Linked DNA regions of Homo sapiens. The protein of the gene in region 2 interacts with the protein of the main gene of each other region in a pairwise test. Each region holds a gene or a part of one and is shown on either strand. Other genes may lie near its edges.

Evidence for each region. The genes of interacting proteins can lie anywhere in the genome.
Region 1: the proteins of CD6 (region 2) and CD5 come close enough for resonance energy transfer, tested with the Homo sapiens proteins (one study listed by BioGRID).

Annotation. Positions count from the first base shown.
Region 1 is NC_000011.10:61,108,987-61,112,638, reverse strand, and holds part of CD5 (T-cell surface glycoprotein CD5 isoform 1 precursor), read right to left. Parts: intron 1-3,652. UniProt on the Homo sapiens protein: Lymphoid-specific receptor expressed by all T-cells and in a subset of B-cells known as B1a cells. Plays a role in the regulation of TCR and BCR signaling, thymocyte selection, T-cell effector differentiation and immune tolerance.
Region 2 is NC_000011.10:61,002,572-61,006,223, forward strand, and holds part of CD6 (T-cell differentiation antigen CD6 isoform 1 precursor), read left to right. Parts: intron 1-790; exon of another isoform or gene 791-2,374; intron 2,375-3,652.

The DNA of each region.
Region 1 (3,652 bases), 110 kb from region 2:
AGAGTCTTCCTCTCTTGCCCAGTCTGGAATGCAGTGGCATGATCTTGGCTCACTATAACCACTGCCTCCCTGGTTCAAGCAATTCTCCTGCCTCAACCTCCCGAGTAGCTGGGACTACAGACATGCACCACCACGCCCGACTAATTTTTGTACTTTTAGTAGAGATGAGGTTTCACCATGTTGGCCAGGCTGGTCTTGAACTCCTGACCTCAGGTGATCCACCCCCCTCAGCCTCCCAAAGTGCTGGGATTACAAGCATGAGCCACCGCGCCCAGCCAATCATCTGATCTATTGCAGTGGGCAGGGCAGCCTCAGGAGGCCATCAGGGAGATGTCCAGCTAGCGAGAGAAATCAGGAAGGAGGCCCTTTTGTCCTGCCCTCACCTCTCACTCCTGACCTCTCATTCCCACCTCCCTCTCATCCCAGCTGCCCATCAGGAGCAGGGCAGTCTGCCTTGAAGGAGTCATCCCTCTGGCTAAGTCTCGAGGGCTAAGGCAGCTTGAAGTGCCACCTGTGGGGAGTGGGAGTCCAAATATCTGCCCTTCAGTGCTACACAGCTCAGGATGGGTTTTCAGTCACCGATGACTTTCTACTGCTCCAGTTCTGAGTATCAGCTCTGCCACTTCCTGCCTATAGAGTCTGGGGAGCACGTCTGTCCTGTCTCTGTGCCTCCAAGCCACGATTTCCTCACTCATAGCATGAGGATGAGCATGGGACTAGCTTTCTAGAGCCGTTGTGAAGATGAGATGAGCTAATCGGTGTAAAGGGCTTAGCCCAGTGCTTCCTGGCCTAGTGCTCAGAGCTGGTGCTACTGATCTGTGGAGTAGGGTGGGCTGGGGGAAGCTGTGCCCAGGGCAGCAGACCCTCGGGGAGCTTTCCCAGTGGGAAGATTCCCTGTCCAGGAGCACAGAGAGCCAAGCCATGGGGCTCACCACTTCCTTCTCCTAACTTGGAAACTTCGCGCAGATGGTCCAGACTTAGGGTGGTTCAACTTACGACTTTTCAAGTTTGCAATGGGTTTGTCGGGGTATTAAATGAATTTTTGACTTAGGATGTTTTCAGCTTACAATGGGTTTATTGAGAGGCAACCCCACTGTAGGTCAAGGAGCATCTCTATTTCCCGAGTCATCATACTCAACGTTCATTATTAACAGCAGCTGCCAACTGTTGAGCACCTGCTGCATACTTAGCCCACGGTATGGTTCATCACAGATATTGTTGTTAATCTTCCACACAGCCCCATCACGAGAGTTGAGTACGTTCCTGGTATAAATGTCAGGAGAGGGCAAATGCCCTGTCCCGGGTAATATGGCTGGCAGGTGGAGTCGAACCATGTGTCTGACTCCAAAACCCATGCTCTCTGCTCCCAGCCACCCAATTGCTCCTCCAGAGTGCCAGCTTTGGAGATGCAGAGATGAACACCACCTGGGTCTGACCTGGAAGCGCTCGTGCAGCCAGACCCTGAAGGCCTGGGGACAGGGACTGGGCCTGACAATCTTGGCAGATTCCACACAGAACAGCCTAGGTCTTGCTCAGAGAACATTCTCAGGAAAGACTGAACAAGCTGGAGAACCAAGTGAAATTCTTTAAAAAATGCTCTAACAAATGCTTTAATAAAAAAGATATTTATGCATTCTAGAGTGTCGCCCTGGAACCTTCCTCTGGGTGCCTGTCTGGTCCCCAGATGAGCAGCAGTTCCTCTCCTCTCCTTCCATCTCTATCACCGTCACCATCATCATCACCATCACCGTCACCATCATCATCACCATCACTGTCACCATCACCAACACTTTAAAAGTTTTCACTCTTCCGGGCCTTTTACACATTAACTCTCCCAGTCCTCACCACAGTGCTATGAAGTAGGTGCTATTATTTTGGTCCCGATTTTACAGACCAGGAAACTTGAGAGGGGTTAAATGACTTGTCCAAGCAGCTAATGAGTGCTGGGGCCCGAACTCAAACCTAGCCGCCTGGCACTGAGTCTTGAGCTTTTGCCAGTGAGGCCCAAACTGCCTCCCTTCCCTCCAGCAGGAAGCCCATGATGGCCTGCCCCAGGTTTCATTGATTCCTGCACCACCCTGGTGTGCAATCCTGATCAAAGGGAATGAACTTGTGATTCCGTTCAGTCAGTAAAACATGCAGTGAGAAGACTTAGCTATGAAGTGCTGTGTGACCTTGGCAAGCCACTCAGCCTCTCTGGGCTCAGTTTCTTAATCTGTAAAGTAAGGAAGTTAGATTCCACAGTCCCTCACCTTCCCCCTGGTTCAAACACCTGTGATCTATAATCTTTAGCTCCTGATGGATTTCAGCAGCTGGTGGAGGGAGGGCGGTGAGATGTACAGCTGACTTGGAAGCTTCCTGAGTGTGTTGTGTATATTCTTTCAGCCTGTCCATGAATATGTTCAGGTTTTTTTTTTATTTGCTTGTTTGTTTTTCACTTATAATCTAGGGAGCAGAATGAACATTGAGGTTTTGAGGGTCCATAACCTATTTCTATTTTTTAGTTGCTTCTCACAGGGGTCAGACCAGCACCCTCCATCCCCTGAGCCCTGCGGTCTGTGTTCAGGGTCTCCCTGACCCCCTCTGGGGGCTCTACAGCTTACTCCTGCACCATCCTTCCTAGCCTCATGAAGCCTGAGGCTCCTGCTATTGCCAAAACTGTGGACAGAATCCCCGAGACTCCAGACCAGGAGGCCCCCGAGGCCTGGAAGTGCTATGCCGTTTCCTTATCCGCCAGCCACCCCTCACCCCGAGCAACTGGGGCTACGGATGAGAATTCTCTGAAGACCCCTTCCTTCTCCTGCCCACCTCCCCTTGCAGCTCCCACAATTTAGGGCCTGGACTGGGCAAACCCAGGCAAAATTCAGGGCTAAAGAAGTCAGACGGCTTATCACACCCCTGGAGCTCCCGTCTCTTGTCTTTGCATTGGCAGAGACAATATTTTTGGCCCTGCCTGCCCTGAGGTCTTGGTGAGGATATCCTCCTCCCTGTCCCTCTCATTCCTCTTGCCCCCACAGTATTCAGGATAATTCTCACTTTGGCTCTCATTACGGCATCCCATGAGTTTTATTTGCTCTGCACAGTGTTTAAAAATTTTTTGAGCCAAATTAAAAAAAAAAAGGTTTCTTTTAATTTTGTTTTGCTTTTTAAACACATTTCAAGATCCAGGCGTTTTTGAAAAATAGGACATCCTGGCTCCACTGGCTGCATCTCTGGAGGCCCCAGGCAGTGGCGGTGGCCCTTGACTTCTGTTTCGTCCACGCCTCGCTGGCACCTTACGGTCGCCATGTGTGTGGAGAGACCTGGCTTCAAACACATGGCAGTGTCTGCAGCGAAACATATGCAGTTTCACACTAAGGGGGATGTGTCAAGATTATAAATAGCCTCCCATTCGTTCAGGTCAGGATTTGCACCAAATGCATTTGCCAGAAACTTACAAATGTTTTTTGGGCTTTGGAATTACAGATGAATATTTGTTGACTTGCATGATGGGTCCCAGTTTACAGAGGAGGAGGCTGTCGTGGTGCATGGGAGTGAGAACTCGGCAGGGCCAGAATTCAGCCCAGGGCGGCTGGCTTTGTAACCTGCACTCCTGGCCCCTGCCTCTGGCTCACTCCTAGGTCCTGCCGCCCCTGCACCCTGGGAAATGGAG
Region 2 (3,652 bases):
CAGTGAACATTTTTATGATCAGGTGTCTTTAATGATGTAAAAAAGCAAATTCACAGGAAAGGGTAAAAGTTTGCTCTTACTCTGTTTTGTGTTGCTATAACAAAGTACCACAGAGTGAGTAATTTAAAACAAAAAGAAATTTATTTCTTATAGTTCTGCAGGCTGGAAAGCCCAAGATCTAGGGGCCACATCTGATGAGGGCCTTCTCTCTGCATCATAACACAATGGAAGGCGTCACATGGCCAGAGAGTGCACGAGAGACAGAGCGAGGGACGGTGGAACTCTCACTTTTACGACAAAACCACTTCTGCAATAACCAACACACCCCTGTGATAACAGCATTAATCCGTTCATGAAGGCAGACTCCTCATGACCTAATCAACTCTTTTCTTTTCTTTTCTTTTCTTTTTTGAGACACAGTCTCGCTCTGTTGGCCAGGCTGGAGGGCAGTGGCGCAATCTCAGCTCACTGCAACCTCCACCTCCCAGGCTCAAGCAATTCTCCTGCCTCAGCCTCCGGAGTAGCTGGGATTACAGGCATGTGCCACCACACCCGACTAATTTTTGTATTTGTAGTAGAGACAGGGTTTCACCATGTTGGCCAGGCTGGTCTCGGACTCCTGACCTCAGGTAATCCACACGCCTTGGCCTCCCAAAGTGTTGGGCTTACAGGCGTGAGCCACCACGCCCAGCCCTAATCAATTCTTAAACATCCAACTTCTCAACACAGGTCATTGGGGGATTAAATTTCCAACACATGAACCTTGGAACACATTCAAACCATAGCAGGCTCCTTTTCAAATAAATTTATTGCAGCAAAAAAGTGAACCAATTTAAAGAAAAGTGTGAGGCACAGGGCCAGGCAAAAGTGGTAACAATGGGCCGGGTGTGGTGGCTCACGCCTGTAATCCCAACAATTTGGGAGGCTGAGGTGGGCAGATCACTTGAGCTCAGGAATTTGAGACCAGCCTGGGCAACATGGGAAAACCCCGTCTCTACAAAAAATATACAAAAATTAGCCAGCATCGTGGCAAGCGCCTGTAGTCCTAGCTACTCGGGAAACTGAGGCACGAGAATCGCTTGAACCCAGGAGGTGGAGGTTGCAGTGAGCCGAGATTGTGCCACTGCACTCCAGCCTGGGCGACAGAGCGAGACACTGTCTCAAAACAAAAAAGGTGATAATGATGTCTGAGAAACGCTGATCTTCCATTCGGCCCTCTGTGAAATGAGGCCTGGATGGAAAGACGGTTCCAGGTAATTTCTGCTTTTGTTCCTGTAGCACAGAAGTCAGAGAACAGAGAAGCCAGGTTCCCTTCTTGGGATAGGGGATGGGAGAATGCTTGACACAAAAATAAAGCCCTCGAGGTTATCCGCTTTCAACCAGCTGCCTTGGAGCTGGCAGCTGCTGCTCATTCATTCAGTCAATCAACAAACATTGCCTTGGACACTGTGGGGGACACAGGGCTGACCCAGCCATGGGCCCTGCCCTCTAGGGTTTTCTGATCTAGGAGAACACATTTTTGTCTTTATGCATGAGAAAGTGGTTTTCCAGACCCAGAGAGAGAGATGATACAGAGCAGAGCTAAAGCCCCCCTGCCCCACACACATCACATTCACACACACAGTCGTAATCACATATGCACACAGTCCCTCACACACACTCATATGCACACACCTCACAGTCATACACACTGCAGCCATCATTCAATCCCCCTCCCCCACCCCATGTAGTAACATTGAAAACTACGCAGGAGCACTGGGACGGTTGCTGTGGGAACCGGGATTCTGAAATCCTAACTTGTGGGCATCTGAATTCTTGCGCTGAACATTCTAATACATCAGCCACAGAGTTTATGCTCTGAATTTGGAGTCATTTCTCCTCCAGGGGCTCAGGCTGGGCAGCCAGCCAGGGAGTTAGCGAGGACGGCAATTAGAGGGCTGAAGACTTTCTGCCTGATGATGAAGAGGCCCACACGGTTTCCTGGAGAGGGCTGTCTGCCAGGGTGTGCACGCGCACATGCACAAGCTCAGGCTCAGGGGGTATGTCCGTGGAATCTGCTCAGGTGAAGCTCCAGGAATGTGTAGTGGTCATGTCCGAGTCTTCAGGCTCTGTATCGGTCAGGCCGGACTAGGCAAGGCTGTAGCAACAAGGACACCCCCAAATCTTCATGGTTTAACATGATAAGGGCTTACTCCTTACTCACACAAAATCCAAGCTGGGTCAACATCCCCTTCCCTCTTGCAGTTCCTCCGCAACCCAGGGCCTCTAATATCCTTCAACAGGGAAGACGTAAATGGAAATGGCTCACTGCCTCTTCCCTGCTTTGGCTCAAAAGCAGGCAGACGTCTTCTGCCTAGGCTTCAACCAGCCCAACCTAAGTGCAAGAGAAACCAGGAAATGCAGAGGAGTTCATAGGCAACCACAACAGTCCCTGCCCCAGAGCCTCCCTTTGTGCTTTGCAAGCCCAAACATCCCAGCCCAGAGGGGAGGCAAGTCCTTGGAGACAGTTTAAATCCGGGCTCTGCAGCTTGCTCACTGGGTGGCCTCAGGCCCACGCATCAGTTGGGTTCCCACCAGGAAACCTAGAATAGGAATTTAAAGGGGACTTATTTACAGAAGAACTATTTACAAAGGGTAATGCAGTAAGTAGAATCTAAGAGCAACTTCTGGCCAAAGGAGACACAACCAGGGAGTGGTCAGTGAGTCCGAGTAGGAGACAGTCAAGGAGAGGTCACCTTGAATAAGCAATGTCCTTCACATGAGGGACACAGCCTACCCGAGGGACCTCACAGGGGGGGCCAGAGGAATAAGTGTCACATCTTCGCTCTCCTCACTTCTGCCTAGCTCTGCTAAGGCTCCCCATTGGCTGAATCTGACAGAAGCCATAAGGCCCAGGAAGACAGGGGTTAATCCAAACAGATCAGCCTCCCAGGGCAGAATGGATAGTAGCTCTGGTGGAATAAATGGACCCTATCTGGCAGGGACAACTGATTTTTGCTTTTGGAGCCTCCTTTTCCTAATCTGTAAAATAAGAATGCTAACACCTGCCTCATTGCATTGTTGAAAGTAAATGGAATAGGCTGGATGTAGTGGCTCATGCCTGTAATCCCGGCACTTTGGGAGGCTGAGGCAGGCAGATCACCTGAGGTCAGGAGTTCGAGACCAGCCTGACCAACATGGAGAAACCCCGTCTCTACTAAAAATACAAAATTAGCCAGGCGTGGTGGCGCATGCCTGTAATCCCAGCTACTCAGGAGGCTGAGACAGGAGAATCGCTTGAATCTGGGAGGTGGAGGTTGCGGTGAGCCGAGATCAAGCCATTGCACTCCAGCCTGGGCAACAAGAGCGAAACTCTGTCTCAAAAAAAAAAAAAGAAAGAAAGAAAGAAAGTAAATGGAACAATATATGCAAATATGCAAATACCTGTCCTTCATGAATGCTAGTTTCTTAGTGTCTGAAGGCACTTTGCAATCCAGTGGTTCCCAGTCCAGGATGTGTCAATTATTCTAAAGTCTGATATGAAATTCTCAAACAAATTCTATAAACAAAATTTTCTTTTTCTAAATCACTCCCACTTTCGAGCTTTTTCTATATGTCAAGTATTTCATAGGCTGTCTCATTTCAGTCTCACAATATTTTCCTAAGAATCATA